Regions from separate parts of the Homo sapiens genome. Here region 2 is linked to region 1. The links come from fine-mapping of genetic effects on gene expression. A gene starts in region 1. The other region holds a variant in brackets. All regions are shown on one strand. Distances are from middle to middle.

The links.
Region 2: its variant is fine-mapped to the expression of SATB1 in whole blood (INTERVAL, PIP above 0.99).

What each region holds. Positions count from the first base shown.
Region 1 is chr3:18,422,705-18,428,086 of GRCh38, forward strand. It overlaps SATB1 (SATB homeobox 1), which reads right to left and starts at 2,635. Exons shown (of 11, transcript NM_002971.6): 1 at 923-2,635.
Region 2 is chr3:18,383,752-18,389,133 of GRCh38, forward strand. SATB1 (SATB homeobox 1) reads right to left here. Exons shown (of 11, transcript NM_002971.6): 8 at 2,648-2,860. Among named protein-coding and RNA genes, the nearest start is that of SATB1, 39 kb to the right of the region's middle. The variant G/T (reference allele first, on the strand shown) is at 2,681.

The DNA.
Region 1 (5,382 bases):
CCTAGAGCAGAAGATGAATTTTAAAACATATGATTTGAAAAGAAAAATCTTTAGCCCTTGGGGCAATTTAAGAGGAAAAAAAGGGAGGGGGTGTAGACAACAGCATCAAAGTTAATGCTATAAAACATATTAAGTAATCATGAGGCTTAACAACACTAGAAACTGTACAGCAAATGAAAGTGATACATTATAATTTAATGTATTGACAATCTAAAGTATCATATAGGTCATGAAAAACTGTCCTTTGAATACCCACCTATAAGCATCTATTAAACACTAAGTCGTGGTGTAAAAAGCTTTACATTACAAACCAAAATTAAATGCGCATAAAACACCCAATTTACTCATTTTAACTCTATGCCCGGGCTAAAGTTCACCAAACCTCAGTTTGGGATTGAAAAGAGCAACCTCCAACAGGCCTGCTTGGATGACAGCAGCAGGAACTAACTATGGTCTCAACAGATGCCAGGCTGAAGAGTTTCTTTTGAGTTACACGTTACAACCCATTTTAGTGCAATGTCTGGTTGCCACACAGAAAGCAAGCTACTTTCTGAAAATCCCATTTATCTGCCCATAAACTAAGACCATATATGATAATTACTGAATAAAACAGTGAACTCAGTAACAACAATTATTTCCTTTAAAAGGAAAGAAAATCTCGAAATTCTAGTTTTTTAGGAACCGATTTTTTGCAAAGCGAGATCCTTTTCAATGAGTTTCTAGCTGGATCGCCTCCTTCGCCCCCACACAACCCCATAATCACATTTTAAGATTGTGCCCTTATCCATTCCATATGGCCGGCACGATCCAGGCCAAGCTTTCACTGTGACCTTTTAAAGAGACAAAGAAGCAAAGTACTATCTAGAAACAGAAACACTGCAGTTTTACTGAGTGAAATTAGCAAAACCGACCTGAAACTCACCACTTCAAAACTTGACAGCACATAAATAACAAAAACAAAGGAGATTTCCTTTGCAGCCCGGGTTCTTGAAGAGAAGTTCAAGACTGATGTTTTCTATGTCCTTTTTTTTTTTAATTAAAAAAAAAAAAATAAAAAAGCAGCAGACCTGAAGGCGACTTCCCCTGAAATTGTATTATTTTCCTTTCCCCTACCCCCGCCCCCCTAAGCGGGGGAAGGGCAGAAATAAACGTCTAGAAGAGTAGCCATGAGAAAGGGGTTTAAAAAAAAAATCACAATTCGAAAACCAACATATAGGGGTTTGTAAAATGTCTAACCTCAGAGAACAGGGTTTGCGATGGGGAGGAGGGGAGAGTGGGAAGCAGGGAGGAGGAAGAAGATAAAATTGATCTGACAAGTGATTCGTTGGGGGGAAATCGTAAAAACAAAGCAAAACCCGTTATGAGCTGTACACTGTGATGGTGCTGGGGAAACGACGTGGTGACTGAGGATTCTCTTAAAAAAAAAAAAATCACTGCGGACAAGGTCTCCAAAAAGGAAAAAAGGTCTCTTCGCGTCTCTCCCTCCCTCCTGCTCACTCGGGTTCTTCGGTGTGAGGACAGAAAGTCTACTTCTGGCTGTCACTTGCAATATTATTCTTCAATAACCCCGAATAACGCGCATTGGGAAGGCCACCTCGCCTCCCTTCCAATCACCCCCACCCCCCTCGCCAACAATCGCGACTAATATTAACAAACCTTAAACTTTTCCCCACAGCCTCGCACCCCCAACGAGGGCATCTAGCGGGGGACAGCGAGGGTGGGGGGCAGGGGGTCGCGAGAAAAGCCCCGGAAAGGCACTAAAATGCCACTTTTGATTCTGCCCTCGCTGACAACAGCCGCAAGGACCCTCTCCCTGCCCATTGACGCGGGGCTGTGAGCGTCTGGGGTCCCAGCAAGTGAGGAGAGAAGAGGTTCGGGGGGAGGGGGAGGAGGAGGAAGATCAGAAGGCACCCCCAGCCACCTCCACCGCCTAGGCAGCGACAAACTCCCCGCCCCCTCCCCCCAAAAAGTCGCCAAGCTCTCACTCGTCCAGAGTCCGAGGTAAACAACGAGCACCACAATGGCACTAGGACTTTGGGGGAAAAGAAACCCAGAAACCCCGACAAAACTGATCAGGAGTTTCCCGAAATGAAAGAGGGGGGCGGGCAGCGTCCTCTAGAGTCGCCCTGGCTTTCGGCTGGGCCCCCGGGCAGGATAGAGGGCGGCCGCGGCTGTTGTTGTTGTGACGAGGCCGGGTGTTGCTGGGTGGCACAGGGAGAGGTGTGTGTGTGTTTGTGTGTGTGCGTGAGTGTGAGCGCGAGTCCCCGGACGGGGCTGCTTCTCTCGCTCTCTCCCTCGCTAGCTCTACCCCTCGCTGCCGTCTCTGCCCCCATTAAATTATTAGTTGACTCATCCCGGCCGCTGTCGCTGCCGCCGCCGTGCCCCGCTCGGCTCCGCGCGTCCGCCCGGGCTGCAGCCCTCTCCGCCGCTGCTCCTGCTGCTGCTGCCGCCGCCGCCGCCGCTGCCGCTGTGGGTGCCTCTTCTTCCTCCTCCTCATTTTAATACAAAATCACCCCGCTCGCAGCCCCAGCCCCGAGCACGCAGCCTCCTCCCGGCCGCCCGCCGCCGCCCGGAGCCTTCCCCAGCGGGGCCGGCTCATCCGCCGCGTCCGGGGAACGGGAGCGAGCGAGAAAGTGGCGGCGGCGGCGGCGGCGGCGGAGGAGGAGGAGGGGGGAGGAGAGGAGGAAGGGGGTGCGGAGCCGAGGAGGAAGGCGGCGTGGGGGGGCAGGGTGCACGGAGCGGGCGGAAAAGGGATGGGGATTAAAACCCGGGCTGGAGGGCCGGGATTGGGGGAGGGGGCGGGGGCGGCGAGTTAAAAAGCCGAAAGACAAGTAACTAGTGAATGAGTGAGGGAATGGGGGGAGCGCACGATTTCCGGCCCCGGGCGCGCAAGAATTTGTAATGAGCTTGATTAGAGTGAGGCGGCCCGACATTTATTACACACAATACCCAGAATAACAGGGCGCTGTGCGAGGGCTAGCGCCGGCCGCCGCCAGACGCGCCAGGGAGGGCGCAGAGGGGAGGAGGAGAGGGGGCTTCCCTGGCAGCGTCCGCCGGAGCGGGGAGGGGAGCGCGCGGCGCGCGGGCGGCAGGGGCAGGTGTGTGAGTGGGAGGGAGGAGGGGCAGGACGGGCAGGACGGGCACGGGGGGCGGGGGGAAGGAAAATGACGGGGAGGAGGGGGCGAGGGCCAGGGGAGAAAACTAACCAACCACCCACACGCCACAAAAGCCACAAAAAGGAGTACGCCTGGAGCGTCGCAGAGGGACAGGCGAGGTGGGGGGACAGGGAGACGCACCGGCCCCGTGGGAGAAGGGCGCGGGTACGCAGGTGACAGGCGCTGAGGAATGAGGTAGGGAGCCATCAGGAAGTGGCTGGAGGGGTACAGACGGAAGGCAGTTCTCTCCGGGGAAGCGCGGAGGGTGCAGAAACGTGTACAGCAATAAAGGCCAGGAGCCTCGAAACGCTCGGAATGTTTATCCTCTAAGGAGGGTGGTCCTTAAACTATGAGGAGCCAACATTAGAAAGAACTGAGTAAGAGCGTTCTGTACTAGTCAGACGTTGGTTCAAATCGCCCTCACTTCTGAGCCATAGAATACTTTGGAAGAAGAAATACGTGGCCGAGTTAAACAAAATTTGGGTCACTTGAAAGAGACCTGACTTGTTATTATAAAGGAAAAGATGCCATCATTCTTCAAATAATTTACGCTAGGCAAAAGAGGAAAGTTTGGGTTGGTAAATACATCTGTTGTAGCAATAAACACTTCTGCTGTAATCTAGGGTAGGTTACCCAGTTAGATAAATGGTCATTACCACATAAGTATGATCCTATTATTTAGACAATCTATTAAATATAGTTCATGTAAAAATAAAGAATATTACAATGTAACCCAAAATAGAAATGCCTCATTTATCGCTTAGGTTTTAGTTCTACCATTTTAGCACCCTGAAGGCAGTTAATCATTAACAAAAAACAAGAATTATTTTTCAGAATTTGCTGGTAGGGAAAAGAGAAAAATCAGTCAGATAAACATTTTGTTACACATAAAAAAGCAACAAGTTAGCACAAGTACTGAGATAAAAGGGAAATTTGCAAATTAAGCTCTGTAAAGCCACCAATACACTCTTAGGCACACTGTTTACATTACAAATCTAAAGAAAAGCCAAAAGGTAAAGCAGAAAAGTGTAGGAAATGATGGCCTCCTAGGGGAGAGTAAGTTTAGGAGAAACAAAATGAAAATATATCACTCTAATAGCACCCACGTTTCACCCACAAACCAGAAAGGTTAGCCAAATCTGGGAAGGCAACCGTGAATCTTGGCACACAAACCCAAGCCTTGAGCAAAAGAATGAACATGTGATAAACAGAAAACACAGCATCAAAAATAGGAAAAGAAATTTAAGGCAAATTTTTAGTAAAAAGCCCAAATGATAGTAAATTTTTAAAAGTTAAAATGTGGGGAAATCTGAAGGAAGATATGTTAGCTAAAGTATAAGAAATAGAAATATGGTAGGTTAAATTTGAAATTTCCAATATGGATACTTTAATAGTTGCTTCAAACTAGTAATGCCTGACATGTTTCCCTGAAACCTGCCTTGTTTTCAGTAGGGACTGTGCACTCTAGTGCCTTGTTGTACAAATTTACAAACAATAGCAACATTTAAAAATAAAGAAAAATTATAGTGGTCCACACACACACAAATGTAATTTAGCCAGGCAATGTCACCTCAAGCTGAATGTTTTTTATAAAAGAAAAGAAAGCTGTTGGGCAAAATAAAATTTAAACTAAGAGAAAACACCACTAAACAAAGATCACGGGAAATATCAATATTAAGATAGACTGAAATAAAATATTGTAAACATGCTTATTACATCATTTTACAGAAATAAATAAGACAAAATGCCATCTGAATGTTTTACCCTCCTAATGACCTGGTGAATGCTAATATAATATGGGAATTAATACAGCAATCCTTAAATTTGAATAGCACCTTTTATCTGAGTCACAAATCTATTCAAAAACACAAAACATGAAAGTATGTAATAAGGACTGACATGGCCTTGGAAAATGATAAACAGAATAAATGAGCATAAAGGCATCTAAGAATGACTATATTATAATGAATAACAATATAGCACAATAAACTTTCCCTCAAGCACATTTTTTATTCCAGAACTATAAGAAATGACATAAGTAAAATGGCACATAGAGGTTAATGTACTAGTGGTATACATCACTGATGAAATTAATTACTATATATTAACTACCCTTTAGAATATTTCATTATAAGCCACTGAGTATTGGCCAGTGTAAAGCCAGATAAAAATAAATAACAAAAAAAGAAAGAAATTTGTCTTAGTCTGTTTTCTGTTCCTTATAACA
Region 2 (5,382 bases), 39 kb before region 1:
AGCACTAATTCAAGTGCTCTATAACGTGTTTTTCCAAATCTAAAGTACTAATTTTGCATTGATAATACCTTTAATACCTTAAGATTTCTTAAAATTTAATTCATTTAATCATGGTTAAAGGGAAGAATGTGAACAAACTGGTAGTGATCTCCATTATAATAATATTAATAATTTAAAGATTTATATTGCAGCAGCAAAATAAAATTACACACACATACACATATCAGTTAGTCATTTTGGAGTTTGGTTAGATGGCCAGTAATACTGCAGTAATAGAAATGTTTTATTTGAAAGAGTTTCACTAAGAATCTACAGTATGTATATACTGTATATTTTCATCATTGGCTGAATACCCTAGCTATGGGCTTGGTCTCAGCTCCTCTTCAGAACAAACAAATACAGCTAAGGGTGGCACAACCAGTTAACCAATAATTCAGGCAAAAATAAATTAAACATATATTCTATCCCAACTTATCAGCAGATAAAGCCTTTAAGCATACATACAGGAAAGTTATCCTATAGTATCTTAACAGCATATGAAAAGAAATATCACTTAATAAGAATTGGTATAACTTTAGCTCAAGAAAAAGCTTGATGAGTAAGGACACCCAAATCACATTTGGAAAATAAATAAAACCAGAGTCCTAGAAAAATTAGAAAACAAAAGCTGTATTAAGGAACCACAAAGTCAAATATCTGGCTAGATGTTTTTTTTTTTTTTTAAAGCAGTTCAATGTTGAAGTTCATATTGGTCTTAAGTAAGCCATTCTTTTATTAGTATTGCAGATTAAGTGATAAGTAAAGTAATTCTCTGCTCAGAGCCCTGTCAGTGGTGACTTCAGGAGCAAAGTTAACTAATAAAAGTGTGTGTATTAACACTAAACACTACAGAAAAAGTACCAAACCAAATTATTTTATTTCATTTCGTATATTTTTTCTTTTTTATCATTCCTAGAAGTCATAGTTTATCTTTTCTCTTTAACCATACTTAGAAGTCATATTTTTTATACATAAAGAGTTCCTCATTCTTTATCTTAGGAAATATTTTATAGAAGCATTTAGAGATCAAATTCAATAACTTTGTGTGCGTGGGCAGGTGGGTGTGTACATACGTATATAGATGCCATGCTTTTCTCCTAAAGAAGCATGACTTTTTTATTCACAATTATAGCAATGATTTCCTTATAGTCTGTTCCTATAGACATCAAGACCAGATTGATTTTCATTAAATAAACTAGTGAAAATGGATTTTGTGACATTTCTAAAAAGTAATAGTTTCAGAACCTTATGATAAGCAGTTTATTTAGCTACTCAACAAGTGGCTAAATATTTCTTATTTATGCAGTATCCGTAGTACTTTCACTCTTTAGTGTTGAATGAGTTTTTTCTAGATTTCTATACATGAAAATGTATAACCACTTTCTACCATTGATGAGAATGAAGTAAAATCGAGATACAATTTCACTATGAGATTGTCATATGAATATTTCGACTTTTTCTTCCATGTTCAATTTTTATCCAATTTTAACTGACCTTATTTTTAAGAGCTGTAAATGTCACAAGTTAAACATGTAAGAAAACACATTTGCAGCCGGGCGCGGTGGCTCAGGCCTGTAATCCCAGCACTTTGGGAGGCCGAGGTGGGAGGATCATGAGGTCAGGAGATGGAGACCATCCTGACTAACACGGTGAAACCCCGTCTCTACTAAAAACACAAAAAAATTAGCTGGGCGTGGTGGCAGATGCCTGTAGTCTCAGCTACTTGGGAGGCTGAGGCAGGAGAATGGCGTGAACCCGGGAGGCAGAGCTTGCAGTGAGTGAAGATCGTGCCACTGCACTCCAGCCTGGGTGACAGAGCGGCACTCCATCTCAAAAGAAAAAAAAAAAAAGATAATATATTTGCTTGTGGTTTTTGAGTCTAATACACTAACTAGCAAACTTTTATCTAAGGGTTTGTAATGCAAATTGATTTACTGAATTATAACAGTTATGAGGTTACTTTTAAAACTTAGTTTAAAAAACAATACAGATTCACATACCCAAAGTTACCCGGAAGGCAACTTTCTTTCCTAAAAAGTCCAAAAATTTTAAGAAAGAGAAAACATGCCCGTATCTTGGAGTATGGATAGAATTCCTTATCAGCCCCATTTAAAGCTGCCTTCAAGGATTTTATTAAACTTAATTATGAAAGATTACAAATGAGATGGTGTGTAATTGGTACCAGCTGCAGTTCGTACTGGAAAGTATAAATACAAATGAAATTATTTATTTTTATTTATTTACTATTCAAATGGCGATTCTGAAACCAGTTGGGAAAAAACTGACTTTATTCTTTTTCTATTGAGTTTAAAATACTTTACTTAATAACAACAGTAGAGACAAATATCCCATTTAAAGACTACTTTCACCCCCAAATAACCCAAAGAATGAAGGAACACAAAGCAATTTTCTTCCCTCTATCTAATTAGGAGCTTATTGTTTTTATATCAGAATTAATGATTTGGGACCAAATTCTCCTCAAGCAACTATACGAATTTAAAAACATATAAATCTATGTATCTATCTATCTAATTTCTTATTGAGATTCTTCCTCAAGCATTAAAAAAAAGCTAAACAAAGAAGGGCAAGGAGGAAAAGGAGACCGCACCTGGGGAGGACGGCTGGGTGGTGTGCTGATGAG[G/T]GGGGCAGGACCCATGGCCGAGGCAGCATTCAAGCTCCTTTCCCTTTCGTCCTGGTATATTCGGTCTCTTTCAGCTTCCGGTAACTGCAAGAAATTCTGCATAGCCCGAAGGTTTACCAGCAAAGACTGGGATGCAGTCTTGGGGTCCTCTTCCTTTCGGAGGATTTCTGAAAGCAAGCCCTGCAAGAAATGAAAGGCACAGGGTGAGCCTGCTGCCTTGCTTTGCCTGGCCAGCAGTGATCCTTCCCTTTTCTTCTCCACTCTGTTTAGAAAATGAACAGTCAGAGGCATTAATTCTGCATAGGAATATATTAGTTACAACTGAAGTGGTAGAGAAGAGAGCCTCAATTGTATTCTTAATTTTATTAAGCATCTGCTTTACATATAACATAAACTGAAACTGCCTAATTGGTCTCCTTCCTTTGAGTAGCTTAACTTGCCATGAAATCTTTCACAGAGAGACGATCCAGGGAAGTTAAGAATAAACGAAATCCTTATAATGCAACAGCACTGAACTGTATAGTTCCCAAGCTGCCTAGACAAAGGCAGTGTAATGCCTACAGCCCAATATGTAAAGATACAAAGCCATTTCTAGAGAAGTAGAACTTTCAAAGAAAATACCAGAAAATGAATTTTAACATATTAGAACAAAGGTTATTACTAAAGCATCACCTAAGGTTTATGCTGTATTTTCACAGGCAATGTTTAAAATTATTCCTTAAACTCTGACTTATCAAAGTACATGACACTACGTGACCCTTTCAATTTACCATTTTCAGAGAACCTCACTGATTATCACAAATGATTCTAAATACTATCTTGCTGTATTATACCACTGGGTAACAGGTTTAAATTTTGAACTTTAAAAACCATAGACAAGATTTGAAATATATTAACTAATTTTCAACATTGCGAAAGTCCATCACAGCATGCCAAGGAAAAGAGTATCAAATTCTGTAATTATCAAATTTCTTGGGGAATAAAAATTGTTAGTGATAGAAGAAATTTATAAATCATTAGAAAACTCTTAAGGTGTCTTTCCCCCCTAAATAACAGAACATCAATTTTCAACTAATTTTTTTAACTTTTGGAAGAACTCTTTCAAAAATGGGTGGTTCTCCCCATTGCATTTAAGAGACAATATGAAATAAAAGAATTGGAAAATTTTCTGTTCATTTTATAAGGGCTAAGCAGCTCTTCTCTCTTTAATCTTGTACATGAAATAATGCTTGGAATAGTAAGACATATTTGGTTTCTTCACTTAGCCAGAGTATCAGCTTCAGAATAAAATTTTGTCAGGATTTCTATATAATTTGCAAATCTACTTTCCAATATCCTGCAGAAACAGTTAAAGGTATATTGGGGGAAGGAAGGTAACGTGTCATGTCAAAACAATGAAGCCCCAAGGTTAAAACATTTGTTTTTTTCATGGTTTGTTAGAAGTACAAACCTGGTTTTGTTCCCAAATTTAAAGATAATGTACCATGTTGCCGAAATGCAACAGTTGGGTGCAGACAATACAAAAGTACTGATACTTCTTAAAATGATTTATAAGCTGGTATTTAAAAAGAACTTTTAACAGGTGCAGAGGGCTTCAGAGTCCATTTTAAAGTTGTCTCTCACTTAGTCTCTTACAGCTAAAGCCTGGAAATTGGACCTGAACTTTCGTTTTTACCCTAAGAAATGTGACTGAAGAATGAAGGGCATGTGTCCTTAGGATACTAACGAGTAATGCTGTAACTGTGTCTACACAAGAGCAAAACATCTAGTCAATTTAACTAAAATTCAGTCAAACAGGCAGTCAATCATCCAGCTATTTAATTTGCACAAGGCCACCTAATTAGTTTGACTGTGTTTCTGATGTGCCATATTGAAAGTAAAACATTCAGGTCTCAAAAAAAAAAAGTTTGAAAATAGGTGTAATGAAATAACCCTTGCTCTTTACTCCTCTCCACCAAATGTTATGTCTTAAAAAATGTACTTGACAAAGCAATATATTCTCAACTACACAGATATGGATACATGAAAACATCAGTATAAACACAATATGCTACAAATTCCTTGAGCATAATAATCTAATATTCACTTTCATCATCCCAGCACAATGTCTCTCATGTAAATGTTTGATAAGTATTTACTAAATGGACTGATCATGTGTATAAAGACCACAATGGAGAAAACAATCACAAACAGGTGATAGAAACTTAAGAACAAGATGTGTTACCCATGAGTCAATTCTAGTAGTAGTTATTAGCACTCATGTTGGGCCTACAGTGAAAAGTTCTGTGGCATTTTTTGAGATGTTTTTCCTAATTGTCTAATAATTAAAAAAATTAGATTAGGGCAAAACATAGTTATAAATATTTAGGATGTTATTTGGGAAACTTGAAATTAGGTATTTAAAAATCCCAAATAACAAAGTACTATATCACATATTTCTATCAAAAATATTTCCTGAGGCAGCAGAGATCTATAGTGAGAAAGTCAAATACAGGAAAACATACAAAATAATATTCTTTCTCAAGTCTTGCTAACATATAAGACTAAGTCATTTCCATATGGTTGAGATTGGAAGGTAGTTATGTCACTTGGGAGAAAATTTTAAAAGTTCTCTACCTATATTTTGATGTTGGTGTGACTTCCTATTTAAGCATACAAGTGTTTTTAGGGGCAAAGCATTTTACTACCACTTAATTATTCTA